Linked DNA regions of Homo sapiens. The protein of the gene in region 1 interacts with the protein of each later gene in a biochemical or structural test. Each region holds a gene or a part of one and is shown in the gene's direction. Other genes may lie near its edges. The genes, in order: BMPR2, GDF9, FST and KIT.

Region 1 (3,570 bases):
TATATTTTTTCATTTCGTCTTCATGACAATTCTATGTTGTAGGTTATTATCATTCCCCTTTTCCATAGAGGGAGAGTAAAGTACAGAGAATTTGAATAACTCACCACACAGTCAGTAAATTATGGAGCCAGGATTATAGTGTGCGCCCTCACATACCACATTAATGGTAACAGCAGCACTAGCAGCAACAACTTCTCATCTTATTGGATATATGAGATGGAGTAATTAGCCTTCACCAGATCAACCTTTGTAAAGAAGCAGGGACACTTACAAGGTGTTAGTGCAGCAGTGGTTATGCAAATGTCGTAGTTCTGAACATGTAAAACTTTGCTTGGCCTAATATTGAAGTGGCTAGTGCAGCTTCATTAAGTGCAAGCTGATTAGAGAGGGCCTGTGTGGATTTGGGTTACACAGATGCAGTGATGTTAACTCGACAGGCGCAAATGGTGCAGCTGAACAGGAAAATAAATCCTAGAAGACTGATTGATAGCACATCCTTTTTCGGGGTCATGGATAAATCATTTCTTTTGATTCCCTCTTTCTCACTTATTGAGTTCTTGGACTCCTTAATTCTTAGAACATTTTCTTTCTTTCTTTCTTTCTTTCTTTCTTTTTTGTTCAGACAGAGTATCACTCTGTCGCCCAGGCTGGAGTGCAGTGGCACGACCCTGGCTCACCACAACTTCCGCCTCCCAGGCGCAAGTGGTTCTCCTGCCTCAGCCTCCAGACTAGCTGAGATTACGGGAGCCCACCACCATGCCCAGCTAATTTATTTTTATTTTTTGTATTTTTAGTGGAGACGGGGTTTCACCATTTTGGCAGGGTGGTTTCGAACTCCTGACCTCGTGATCCACCTGCCTCGGCCTCCCAAAGTGCTGGGATTACAGGCATGAGCCACCACACCCCGCCTAATTCTTAGAACATTTTCTATGCCCCCCCCAAAAAAAAAAACAACTTATGAAAAATAAGATGTGCTGGCTTGGTTTATGAATGAATTCTTAATAAAAGAATACAACACAGCTATTATTTAAAGGTCAACTTCTGTAATGCGTTTTAAATAATTCACTTGATTAGATTGCAATTTTACATACATCTCTTGAGGAACACACACATTATATAAAGTAAGATTAATCTAATGTTAGTGAATATTACTGAGTAACTGAAGTTTAGTAATCTTCATTTTAGTTTTTCTCAAAGTGTGGGTACTGCAACAGAATTACCTGGGGTTCTTGATAAAAATGCATATTTTTGGCCCTATAGTCCAGATGTACTGAATGAATCTCTCTGGGAGAACCCCCGCAAAGTCTCACTCAAGCAGGTGCTTGAGAAGCACTGCTTTATATCATCAGTCCTGATTGTTTGGATTTCTTTCTTTTTTTTTTTTTTTTTGAGTTTTGCTCTTGTTGCCCAGGCTGGAGTGCAATGGTGTGATCTCGGCTCACTGCAACCTCCACCTCCCGGGTTCAAGCAATTCTGCCTCAGCCTCTCGGGTAGCTGGGATTACAGGCATGTGCCACCACTCCTGGCTAATTTTGTATTGTTAGTAGAGACAGGGTTTCTCCATGTTGGTCAGGCTGGTCTTGAACTCCTGATCTCAGGTGATCTGCCCGCCTCGGCCTCCCAAAATGCTGGGATTATAGGTGTGGGCCACTGTGCCTGGCCCTGGCCCTGGCCCTGGCCCTGGCCCTGGCCCTGGATTTCTTTCTTTCTTTTTTTTTTTTTTTTTTTTTTTTTTTGAGACAGAGTCTGGCTCGGTCACCCAGACTGGAGTGCAGTGGCGCCATCTCAGCTCACTGCAACCTCTGCCTCCCGGGTTCAAGTGATTCTTCTGCCTCAGCCTCCCAAGTAGCTGGGACTACAGGTGTGCACCACCACACCCGGCTAATTTTTGTATTTTTAGTAGAGACGTGGTTTTACCATATTGGCCAGGCTGATCTCAAACTCCTGACCTCGTGATCTGCCTGCCTCTGCCTCCGAAAGTGCTGGGATTATAGGCATGAGCCACCACGCCTGGGCTGGATTTCTTAAATATGGTGATTCAGTGACATTTTGCTGTGTAATTATTGGCAACCACAAAATCTTAGTGGCATGCAACAATAGGCATTTATTCTGCTCCATGTGTCTCTTTCTGGGGTCCAGGCTAGAGGGAGAAGTAACATCTATCTGGGGGAGGCTTGTGTCATGGCATTGGCAGAAGTGCAAGAGGCCAAGCCCAACCCTACCAGCACATTTCCAGACTCTGCTCTCCTAACATCCCATTGGCTGACCGAGTCATATGGCTAGGCTAAGCTCAGAAACAAGAGGTATCAAAGTACACTTTGCCTGTGATGAGGCTAATGTAATATTTGGATATATAGTACTATTGCAGAAGAACGAAGAATTGAAATTCTCAGTAGACCACATATAACCAGTAAGATGGTCCAGAAGGGAGGCTTTTCTTACCCTTTGAAGAGGGCCAACCTCTTAATTAGTTTTTTGCATTAAAATGATATAAACTTTGGTCTCTACAAAAGCTATTCTGGCATGTGGGATGATGTGATAGTAGTGGTATTGATGTGGATGAGTAGTGAGGTGAGAGATAACTGTTCACACAAGACAAAACCTTTCCTTCATTAAAGGCCAGTTTTTTTTTTAACAAAAAGAGAAGAAATTGAATATTGATCTCTAATGGGTAAATTCTAACCATTAAAAAAATACTGAGTGGAATCTGTGTGAATCAGTTAATTTTATAATTGGCCACACCACTTATTTTGGCACCTACTCATAGATTGCTGTGCTGCTGGATATCAGTTTTTGTTTTTGTTTTTTTTTTTTTTTTTTTGAGATGGAGTCTTGCTCTGTCACACAGCCTGGAGTGGAGTGGCACGATCTCGACTCATTACAACCTCCACCTCCCAGGTTCAAGCCATTCTCCTGCCTCAGCCTCCCGAGTAGCTGGGATTATAGGTGTGCACCATCATGCCTGGTTAATTTTTGTATTTTTAGTAGAGATGGGGTTTCACTATGCTAGCCAGGCCGGTCTCGAACTCCTGATCTTGTGATCCACCTGCCCTGGCCTCCCAAAGTGCTGGGATTACAGGTGTGAGCCACCACACCCGAAATTTTTTTATTTTTAGTAGAGATGGGGTTTCACCATGTTGGCCAGGCTGGTCTCAAACTCCTTACCTCAGCTGATCCACCCACCTTGGCCTCCCAAAGTGTTGGGATTACAGGTGTGAGCTACCGCACCTGACCAGGTATCAGTTTTATGTATTTGCCTTGTCCTTCCTACTGATAATTGCTTCCAGAGGACAGTATTCATGTCTGATTAGTTTTATAATTTAGTAGACATTTAAGAAATACTTAGTGAATGAATAATAAATAGGAATTTCAACCAGGAATATTCTAGGGTTGTTTATTGACTCAAATAACACACCAATAACTTTTTCTTTGTCCTAGTTCCTTCAACTATAAAGTATGTAGTTTAAGAGGTATAGTGGGAAGACCACTGTTGGGAGTTAATGAGACCTAGATTCTATATGATTCCGGGCAAATAGGTTACTTAACATAGTTTTCTTACTTGTAATAATA
Region 2 (2,855 bases), on another chromosome or scaffold:
GACTCTGTCTCAAAAAAAAAAAAAAAAGTATATATCTACCAGCTCTTGATTTAAAACCATTCTAACCCAACAGGGCAGTTGTATCTGCTTCCTTAATATCCTATTTTAATATAGTGGTTTTAGAGCATCTGTTTTTAATCTCAAGTGTTCTAAATTAACTAGGACCAATTACATTGTTTTAAATTGACTTTCTTCACTAGGGCTTAGAATGTCATCTTAGTAAGTCTGATAAGTGTTTCTATTATGGTTTTCCCTCTAGAGATTATCCAAGAGAAAAATACTACTTTCCTTATCAGCTCAGCTGCTTCTGTGTTTGGAGCAAATTACTCAGAATGAAGCTTCAGGCTGAGCACAGTGGCTCATGCCTGTGATCCCAGCACTTTGGGAGGTTGAGGTGAGAGGATCGCCTGAGCCCAGAAGTTCAAGACCAGTCTGGGCAACATGGCGAGACCTTGTCTCTACAAAAACAAAAAATCAGCTGGGCATGGTAGCTCATGCCTGTAGTCCCAGCTACTTGGGAGGCTAAGGTGGGAGGATCAGTTGCACCTGGGAGGTTGAGGCTGCAGTGAGCCATGATGGTGCCACTGCACTCCAGCCTGGGTAACAGTGAGACCCTGTCTCAAAAAAATAAAAAATAAAAATGAAACTTCAGAATGTAGTGATTCCCTGTTACTTTGATTCACCACCAAATCTGACTTTCTGGAGATAAAATGTCCAGTAAGGTTGCTGGGAATTAGTAATGATACCAATTGCCTTCCTTTTCTATATTAACCCCCATTTTTTTTTTTGAGGCTTGAGAAAGTGGGGAAAAGAGAAGGGAGAAAGCATATTATGAAGTACTAATTCTTTGACTTGACTGCCTGTTGTGTTGACTGATTTTCAAGCACTACTGGTAGATTTTTTTTCTTCTTAGGAATCCTTCCATCAGTGGAACTGCTATTTAACCTGGATCGCATTACTACCGTTGAACACTTACTCAAGTCAGTCTTGCTGTACAATATCAACAACTCAGTTTCTTTTTCCTCTGCTGTCAAATGTGTGTGCAATCTAATGATAAAGGAGCCAAAGTCTTCTAGCAGGACTCTCGGCAGAGCTCCATACTCATTTACCTTTAACTCACAGTTTGAATTTGGAAAGAAACACAAATGGATTCAGATTGATGTGACCAGCCTCCTTCAACCTTTAGTGGCCTCCAACAAGAGAAGTATTCACATGTCTATAAATTTTACTTGCATGAAAGACCAGCTGGAGCATCCTTCAGCACAGAATGGTTTGTTTAACATGACTCTGGTGTCCCCCTCACTGATCTTATATTTGAATGACACAAGTGCTCAGGCTTATCACAGCTGGTATTCCCTTCACTATAAAAGGAGGCCTTCCCAGGGTCCTGACCAGGAGAGAAGTCTGTCTGCCTATCCTGTGGGAGAAGAGGCTGCTGAGGATGGGAGATCTTCCCATCACCGTCACCGCAGAGGTCAGGAAACTGTCAGTTCTGAATTGAAGAAGCCCTTGGGCCCAGCTTCCTTCAATCTGAGTGAATACTTCAGACAATTTCTTCTTCCCCAAAATGAGTGTGAGCTCCATGACTTTAGACTTAGCTTTAGTCAGCTGAAGTGGGACAACTGGATTGTGGCTCCGCACAGGTACAACCCTCGATACTGTAAAGGGGACTGTCCAAGGGCAGTTGGACATCGGTATGGCTCTCCAGTTCACACCATGGTACAGAACATCATCTATGAGAAGCTGGACTCCTCAGTGCCAAGACCGTCATGTGTACCTGCCAAATACAGCCCCTTGAGTGTTTTGACCATTGAGCCCGATGGCTCAATTGCCTATAAAGAGTACGAAGATATGATAGCTACAAAGTGCACCTGTCGTTAACAAATGGTCCTCTTAAAACCTTGAGCCTATTTGGCAAAGTAACTACTGTGTGCCTATGTGTGCCTTCAAGAGAAAGCTTCATATATTAAGTCTCTAAATGTAGCATATGTTATATAAAGAGGAGCCTGTGTAGGTTAGTACCTTCTATGGCATCTATCAGGATAAAGGGATAACATCAATTGTTGCTACAGAGCCTTTTTTTATTTCCAAATTTAAATGAAATATAATTATTGTGGAGAACTTTACATTTTTTTCCTTGAGTGATTTTTTTTCTTTTCATAGGAGTCTTATTCTTGATAGGGAAAAAACCTTAATTAGCATCAATCCTGGATGGACTTGCAGCTATAAATAGGCAATTCAGATTGCTGTAGTCTTAATAGAAGAATAAATTTCTGTCAATGGCATAAATTTTGTGTGTGTTTTATTAAATATTGCTTTTAAGCTGATCATTTAGTGGGGGAGAGGAAGTGTCTAAAAGCTGGCCATAGCTCGACTTTTGATCCTTTTTCAGAGTGAAAGGGAGGCTAATGTCACCGAAATTCTCATGAAGTTAAGACTCACTAGGACTAGAGAGCAGGCAGTGTAACCCATTTCCGTTGCTTTAGTGTGATTGGTGAACAGTATACTAATTCTCCTTGTTAACTAGCATATATAAATCAATCGAGTCACACAGAACAATATAACATTTGTCCCATTCATGTAAAGGAAATTGCCTTGCATGTTTTTCCAAGAAAACCTACGTACAAGACTTTGTAAGTGTATTTTTTTCTTTATATATTTAAAACCTCTGACCTTATGAAAGGCAGCCAGGGAAGGTTTTTTGTTTTGGTTTGGTTTTTGCTGATTTGCTTAGCTCCCTCCACTCCACCCCCACAGGTTTTTTTCCAGATAGATTTATAACTGTTCCTACTAAGCTTGCAGTAGTGACTGGTTATGTTATTGACTGGGTCTTATGTGGATGCTAGGGTTTTTAT
Region 3 (4,076 bases), on another chromosome or scaffold:
CGGGCTGGATGGGAAAACCTACCGCAATGAATGTGCACTCCTAAAGGCAAGATGTAAAGAGCAGCCAGAACTGGAAGTCCAGTACCAAGGCAGATGTAAAAGTAGGTCCTACCCTGTTGAGCAAGACTGGATCTGTCCCCTCCTCCAGCTTTGTACCTAAAGTAGACCCTCTAGAAGACCCTTGGGGGATGGTGTAGTCCGCAGTAAGAGCCTGATAATAGTAATACTGAAACCAAATAAAGGAGTCCTTTTCTAACCTCTAGAGATTCATTAAGAACACTGAGGGGACCAACCTAGTCATAGATTCTCTCTTGAAAACTACAGGGCTCCCTAAGTGCCTTTTGAAAGCTGGATGCTTCAGTGTCATGATTTCCTTGGTAACTTCAAGTGCTCACTCCCTAAGGACTAGAAGGTACCTATTCATGTGTGTTTCCTTCTTTGTTCCAGAGACTTGTCGGGATGTTTTCTGTCCAGGCAGCTCCACATGTGTGGTGGACCAGACCAATAATGCCTACTGTGTGACCTGTAATCGGATTTGCCCAGAGCCTGCTTCCTCTGAGCAATATCTCTGTGGGAATGATGGAGTCACCTACTCCAGTGCCTGCCACCTGAGAAAGGCTACCTGCCTGCTGGGCAGATCTATTGGATTAGCCTATGAGGGAAAGTGTATCAGTAGGTATTCTGGATTGAGGAAGGAAAAAGAGAAAACAGGCTAGTTCTATTATTAAACTGTGGGGTTAACTAATAAGTAAAGCCCAAGGCGTCCCCAAACACCATAGGGAGAAATACGCTGCAATTTGGGGAAAGTGTTGTGACCACAGTATTCCTCATGGAAACCATTGTCTTCTGGAGGCATTGACACATATATTCAAATGCCAGCAGGAAGCAAGGAACAGTATTCCGTCTTAGAAAACTTAGAACTTACTCAATTTTACACATTTTTTTAAGTGCCAGACTTGCTGGAAGCGAAAAATAATTACTTAGCAGTTCCAGAAATCTGTTGTCAGATTCTAGTAATTAATGGAATTCTTTCTTTTGTAAAAGATCCCACTTGTGGGAAATAATAAGATACATATTTAACTTGAGAATATTGTAAAATCCTGTTCTTAAAAAAATACCCTTTTAATGCACTAATGTAGTATGTAAGAAACTGCAGGGGTTTTGTGCGTGTGTATGTGTGTGTGCATTTGAGTTTCAGTTTTATTATCCAGCATTTTTGCATAATATCTCCATTACCCCCATTAGTAATAGGCTATTACTATTATGTTTATATAAAATAAATTATGTTTATATTTATTGATAGAGGACTAGAGAAAGGGAGAAAAGGGGGATATGGGGAAATCAGTTTACTCATCACAGATGTATTATATCCTAGAAGCAAAGTCCTGTGAAGATATCCAGTGCACTGGTGGGAAAAAATGTTTATGGGATTTCAAGGTTGGGAGAGGCCGGTGTTCCCTCTGTGATGAGCTGTGCCCTGACAGTAAGTCGGATGAGCCTGTCTGTGCCAGTGACAATGCCACTTATGCCAGCGAGTGTGCCATGAAGGAAGCTGCCTGCTCCTCAGGTGTGCTACTGGAAGTAAAGCACTCCGGATCTTGCAACTGTAAGTGCGATTTTTAACCTTGCTGCCATTTAAGGCTTTCCCAGGCAATCCCTAGGGAATGGACACTTACAAAGCACGCAGATCTCCCATAAATCCATTTCTGTTCAAATTAGGTAGCTGCTAAGTATCACCAGCAATTCAATAATCCACAGAAAATTCTCTGCGATGTTTCTTGGCTTTTAGGACTTATCTGGTGATCATCAATGGGGTTGCCTCTAGAAATCTATTTCCAGTTGTTTTCCCCTATTTCTTGTGTTTTGGTAGTGTGCTTTGCTGTTTGCTTTATTAACATTTGAGTCTAAACTAACTGCTTCAAAAGTTTTTTTTTTTTTTTTCCAACGACAGCTTCATATTATCACACATGGGCTGCTGCTTTTTGCAGTTGCCTCTACTAACTCTGAATTAAGGACCCAAAGCAGTTATACCTAGAACACAAGAGCGCTTTTTATCTAATTTCAGGAATCTGCCCGTAAAACCTGAGCCATTGATTCTTCAGAACTTTCTGCAGTTTTTGACTTCATAGATTATGCTTTAAAAAAATTTTTTTAACTTATTGCATAACAGCAGATGCCAAAAACAAAAAAAGCATCTCACTGCAAGTCACATAAAAATGCAACGCTGTAATATGGCTGTATCAGAGGGCTTTGAAAACATACACTGAGCTGCTTCTGCGCTGTTGTTGTCCGTATTTAAACAACAGCTCCCCTGTATTCCCCCATCTAGCCATTTCGGAAGACACCGAGGAAGAGGAGGAAGATGAAGACCAGGACTACAGCTTTCCTATATCTTCTATTCTAGAGTGGTAAACTCTCTATAAGTGTTCAGTGTTGACATAGCCTTTGTGCAAAAAAAAAAAAAAAAAAAAAGAAAAAGAAAAAAAGAAAAATATATTGTCCATACTGTAAATAAGTGTATGCTTATTTATTTGGGGGGAAAACTATACATTAAAGGACCTTTGTCCTAAAGCTCTCTCCCAGGCCACCTTGTTACTCATTGGACACGGAGAGGCATTCATTGTGAGGTCTACTGGATGAGGCCCATAGTTGAGACTTGTAGACATTTATTTATACTGTGTCATGTTTTATAATTTATACATAAAATGTCTGGTTGACTGTATACCTTGTTTTTGAAGAAATTTATTCGTGAAAGGAAGAGCAGTTGTTATTTATTGTGAGGTCTCTTGCTTGTAAAGTAAAAGCTTTTTTTCCTTGTAAACCATTTAAGTCCATTCCTTACTATTCACTCACTCATCTGTCTCCCTTCATTTCACTGTTAGACTCTTTTCCACTTTCAACAAACTTGCATGTCAGTTTCTGTCATGTTTATTTATTGGATTCTCTGCTGCCTGATCTGTACATACATGATCCCTCGGGTTTTGTTTACAAGGAACCTTGACTGACCAAAAGGCATTATAACTCTGACTCAAATACAAGGTACAGAAGATAAGCATCTTTGAGGAAACTCCTACTTCAGTTCTTTTGTTATGATGAAGACATTTGTGAGAGAGGAGATGATTAGAATTCTAGTAATGTACTTTTAAGATGTTACAGATACAAAGAAATGATGTGGGTGTCAGGAGACTAAAGGATGTTGAAGGCTACACATTCAACCTTTTGTTAGGTGTTTCCTTTAAGCTACTCAGCTGTACCTTTTAAATTAGTTCTTTTTCAACCAGTATATCACTAAAAGTTATATCAAAGCTTTATCAGTTCAAGTTTCTTGCTTTTCATAATACTTTTTTCTGATGCAATTTTATATTTTCAAACATGGCAAGTTAAAATATAAATTCATTTAAATATATAGTTTTGTACTTTTCTACCATGTAAATGTGCAATGTATATAAAAGTTATAATGTGTATTTGTAAATAAATGATGAGTGAAAAAATAAAAAAATTTTAAAAAGCCAATGGTTTCAATTCCTGATGATGCAAAGAAGTTATTTGGACTTTTGAGTAAAAATGTGTATGATACCTTTGCTGAGGAATGTAGCTATCTCTGAAATTACATGGCCAGGGCAGTACAGATCACTTCACTGGAGTTTGAAAGATAAAGGGATCTGAGGTCCAGCAACCCCACTGTAGGAGTGGCATATACCTGTCACTAACCACAGAAGGAACAGACTGTAGATGTGGGTTCTTTCCTGCAATATGCCAAGGCTAATATTTCCTCTTTAAAAACACCATCGTTTTAGCTGTCCTTGTTGCAAGCTCATCACCATAGCCAGGGACACGCTTCATCTTACTTTCCCATAAATCCAGTGCAGTTTCAGTCTTTTAAAAAACAACACACATCACAAGGAAAGCTGACAACAGATATAATATTTGACAAACACATTCTAGAAATCAGAATATCAGCTGCAGAAGTAGACATTATAGTGTTGGAATGCTAGGGACTTGATGAGGTGAGGATGGGGTGGAGGTGAATTTCCACAATGATGTCCATGGTTAGGGATCAAATAATGTCACTCATT
Region 4 (3,570 bases), on another chromosome or scaffold:
GAAGTACAGTGGAAGGTTGTTGAGGAGATAAATGGAAACAATTATGTTTACATAGACCCAACACAACTTCCTTATGATCACAAATGGGAGTTTCCCAGAAACAGGCTGAGTTTTGGTCAGTATGAAACAGGGGCTTTCCATGTCACCTTTTTGGGTACACATAACAGTGACTTTAAGGAACTCCAGTGGCTTCCTTTGTTTTGTTCCACCTGAAACAATGAGTTTTCTGTGAAATTGCGCCCCTTTTGATAGGTTTGCCATAGAGAACATCGTAGGAAAATGTCTCTGGACAACATTGTTTTTAATTCCTTTATTGATTTTGAAACTGCACAAATGGTCCTTCAATTCCACCACCAGCACCATCACCACTTACCTTGTTGTCTTCCTTCCTACAGGGAAAACCCTGGGTGCTGGAGCTTTCGGGAAGGTTGTTGAGGCAACTGCTTATGGCTTAATTAAGTCAGATGCGGCCATGACTGTCGCTGTAAAGATGCTCAAGCGTAAGTTCCTGTATGGTACTGCATGCGCTTGACATCAGTTTGCCAGTTGTGCTTTTTGCTAAAATGCATGTTTCCAATTTTAGCGAGTGCCCATTTGACAGAACGGGAAGCCCTCATGTCTGAACTCAAAGTCCTGAGTTACCTTGGTAATCACATGAATATTGTGAATCTACTTGGAGCCTGCACCATTGGAGGTAAAGCCGTGTCCAAGCTGCCTTTTATTGTCTGTCAGGTTATCAAAACATGACATTTTAATATGATTTTGGCAATGCTAGATTATAAACTGCTTGGAAGATTTTTTTACCCAGACTGTTGTTCTCTCTTGCTAGATTTTGTTTTCCTCATTGTTCTTAAGAATGCAGATTTTAATTTTATCATTATGGGGTAGAACAGCCCAGGACATACCCTAGTTATTGTCGTATTTGTAACATCAACGACATCAGCCTCTTGAATATCTCATCCCGACCAGAAGGCTTCTGTTATCTTGTAAGCTTTATACATTTCTTGATCATATGTAGCCACTGAAAGGGTTAATATTAATTTGCATACTACAATTTAAAACAGGCGCCTAAGCCTACTGGTTCTCAAATATACACCAAATGAGGCAAACATTTCACTTCTCTAAAAATAAGTTTCCAATTTGAAGCCTTAGTTGAAGTTCCCATCAAGGATGTCTGTGATGTTTGCAGAAAGTATTTCAGTTGAAAGAAACAAAGATGTGTAAAATGAGCTGTTTCTGGAGATCCACGATAAAGTTGACAGCCTTATATCATGTCTTCCAATAATCCCCATAAATGTTGCTTCACCACATCATGAATTGTTCATGAGAAAATTTCTTACCCAAGTTAATTAGTTGCCTGTTACTTCTAAACTACAGTTTAAACATTCATAGCACCAAAAAATTTTTCAACTAGTAGCGCTCAGAACACAGGTCATTTTAGGTTTTCACTCACTTTCCAGTCTTGTCCCAGCTGGCTGCTCCTTGTGGCTGATTTTCCCACTATGCCACAGTTTGTGCCTTCATTATTTCCATAATAACGTTACAGAGAGTGTGTGAAGCCCTGCTGTAAACAGAAGTGAACCAGAGGATTCACGTAGGAAGCTTGATAATAGTAGAATCTTTGAAAGCAGTAACTTCTCTCTGTAAAACCAGCAGTCATGCTTGGCTCCAAATACTAATGTCACTTAGAAATTCAGGTTAAAAGAGGCTTGCTTGTTTTATGTTACTCCACATAAGGCTGCTTTTTTGATAAGCAGTGTTAATATATGGGATTGTATTGGGACTAAGTAGTCTGATCCACTGAAGCTGAATATTAATGGCCATGACCACCCTTGGGTATTTTTATGGGAGGCAGAATTAATCTATATATCTCACCTTCTTTCTAACCTTTTCTTATGTGCTTTTAGGGCCCACCCTGGTCATTACAGAATATTGTTGCTATGGTGATCTTTTGAATTTTTTGAGAAGAAAACGTGATTCATTTATTTGTTCAAAGCAGGAAGATCATGCAGAAGCTGCACTTTATAAGAATCTTCTGCATTCAAAGGAGTCTTCCTGGTAAGACTGATTTACATAAATAGTTAGCTGTTGACAGGCAGTTCATGGGGTCATAAGGGTTTGCAATCAAGGCTGATTCTTTAAAAAATGAACTGAGGTACTCTGAGGTATGAAATCAAAATTATTAAATCATTTAAATGTGATTAACAGTTTAGAAAGTTAAATTGTGTTTTTAAAGATTCAAACCTAGATTTTTGCTGATTTTTTAAAAATGTATTTTCAGTTTTCTTCTACACTTTAGTTCCATGCAACTGAATGCATTCTATATCTGTTTCTCTTACGGTTCTGTCCTGCATGTATTTCCATTTATACTATTGAGCTTGGTACTACATGCATGTTTCCAGTGAGATACTGTTTATAGGGAAAATGCTAAAGCCTCTCAAGTTGCCACAGTAAAGTCCCTTTAAAACCTTTAGCAGAATGACAAAGAGCTCTGAACATATCTCCACATGTAGGCTTCTTGCCATCGACCTCTGGATTATTCCTGTATACCTTGCCTCTTGCCCTTTTTATTTCATCATGCTATTAAAAGACATAACTACTCCAGCACATTTTTTAAAAATTCTGGACATTATTCTCATCTCTTTCATCATTGATGCCATTCTGAATTTGAATCATGTATAAAGAGCTTTGAGTTTGACTTACAACCAGAAAAGAATTCTTCTCATATCTTGCCTATTCTTTCTTTGGAAATGCTCTTAAGGGCCACCATTTGAGAAGACTTCCTAGATGTACCCAGTCCAACAGAAGTCATGGTTATTTTGCCCAGTCCCCTATACTGTATATTGCTGCAGTTGTGTGGTAGATTTCTCCTATCCTTTTCATGCACTTTATATCCACTGCATCTTGCAATGGCAAGACATTGCCTCCTGAACTCTTAACACCAGGTCCTCAAGGAGACCTCAGTAAATATTATTGATGGGCAATTACCCCTTAAAGCCATTTTCTGTACCTCTGGCTAAAGTTTAAAACCCCAGGTGAAACTTTTTATTTTTTTTTAATCCTATAAACTTGAGTAGTTTAAAGTGGTAGTAGAAACTGTACAAAACCACTTTTTGTTAGTTTCTCCTGGGCATGTGCTCATTATATGAAGAAATGAGCCATTTTGCTTCTTTCCGAAACCTTGGCCCTATATATATCCTTTAACTTTCTGATATAATGGCCTAAATTGTTCAATCCTGTGTGATGTTCTTTGTGCTTTGGGATCCCATATGGGATTGGAACCACCAGCACACTCTGAAGGAGATTGTTGTCATGGTGTTTCTATGCTAATCAGAAGCAGGAAGTACTAGAAATCTTGAAGAGTCTCCAGCCAAATGTTGCAGATTGAAGAGGTCCAGATGGTTCAGAAAATCATCCAAATTATTGGTGTTTATCTGAACCAACTTGATTTTTTTTTAAACCTTCCTCCATCAGTCACTATATGTTAACGATCTCTGCCTCCTGCATAACACGTCTTGGAAGCTCTTCTTTGTCTTTCTTTCATCTTGTCTCCTGGGGCTCATTTAGAGA

What was found.
Region 2: the proteins of BMPR2 (region 1) and GDF9 form a complex in vitro, tested with the Homo sapiens proteins (one study listed by BioGRID).
Region 3: the proteins of BMPR2 (region 1) and FST are reported together in a solved structure, tested with the Homo sapiens proteins (one study listed by BioGRID).
Region 4: the proteins of BMPR2 (region 1) and KIT form a complex in vitro, tested with the Homo sapiens proteins (one study listed by BioGRID).

What each region holds. Positions count from the first base shown.
Region 1 is NC_000002.12:202,379,257-202,382,826, forward strand, and holds part of BMPR2 (bone morphogenetic protein receptor type-2 precursor), read left to right. Parts: intron 1-3,570. UniProt on the Homo sapiens protein: On ligand binding, forms a receptor complex consisting of two type II and two type I transmembrane serine/threonine kinases.
Region 2 is NC_000005.10:132,860,615-132,863,469, reverse strand, and holds the end of GDF9 (growth/differentiation factor 9 isoform 1 preproprotein), read left to right. Parts: intron 1-913; coding exon 914-1,881; 3' UTR 1,882-2,285; downstream 2,286-2,855. UniProt on the Homo sapiens protein: Required for ovarian folliculogenesis. Promotes primordial follicle development. Stimulates granulosa cell proliferation. Promotes cell transition from G0/G1 to S and G2/M phases, through an increase of CCND1 and CCNE1 expression, and RB1 phosphorylation.
Region 3 is NC_000005.10:53,483,622-53,487,697, forward strand, and holds the end of FST (follistatin isoform FST344 precursor), read left to right. Parts: coding exon 1-101; intron 102-447; coding exon 448-672; coding exon of another isoform or gene 673-711; intron 712-1,375; coding exon 1,376-1,606; intron 1,607-2,065; coding exon of another isoform or gene 2,066-2,067; exon of another isoform or gene 2,068-2,306; coding exon of another isoform or gene 2,307-2,329; coding exon 2,330-2,412; 3' UTR 2,413-3,513; downstream 3,514-4,076. UniProt on the Homo sapiens protein: Multifunctional regulatory protein whose primary function is to antagonize members of the transforming growth factor beta (TGF-beta) superfamily including activin, myostatin, GDF11 or bone morphogenetic proteins (BMPs).
Region 4 is NC_000004.12:54,727,428-54,730,997, forward strand, and holds part of KIT (mast/stem cell growth factor receptor Kit isoform 1 precursor), read left to right. Parts: coding exon 1-115; intron 116-395; coding exon 396-500; intron 501-583; coding exon 584-694; intron 695-1,907; coding exon 1,908-2,058; intron 2,059-3,570. UniProt on the Homo sapiens protein: Tyrosine-protein kinase that acts as a cell-surface receptor for the cytokine KITLG/SCF and plays an essential role in the regulation of cell survival and proliferation, hematopoiesis, stem cell maintenance, gametogenesis, mast cell development, migration and function, and in melanogenesis.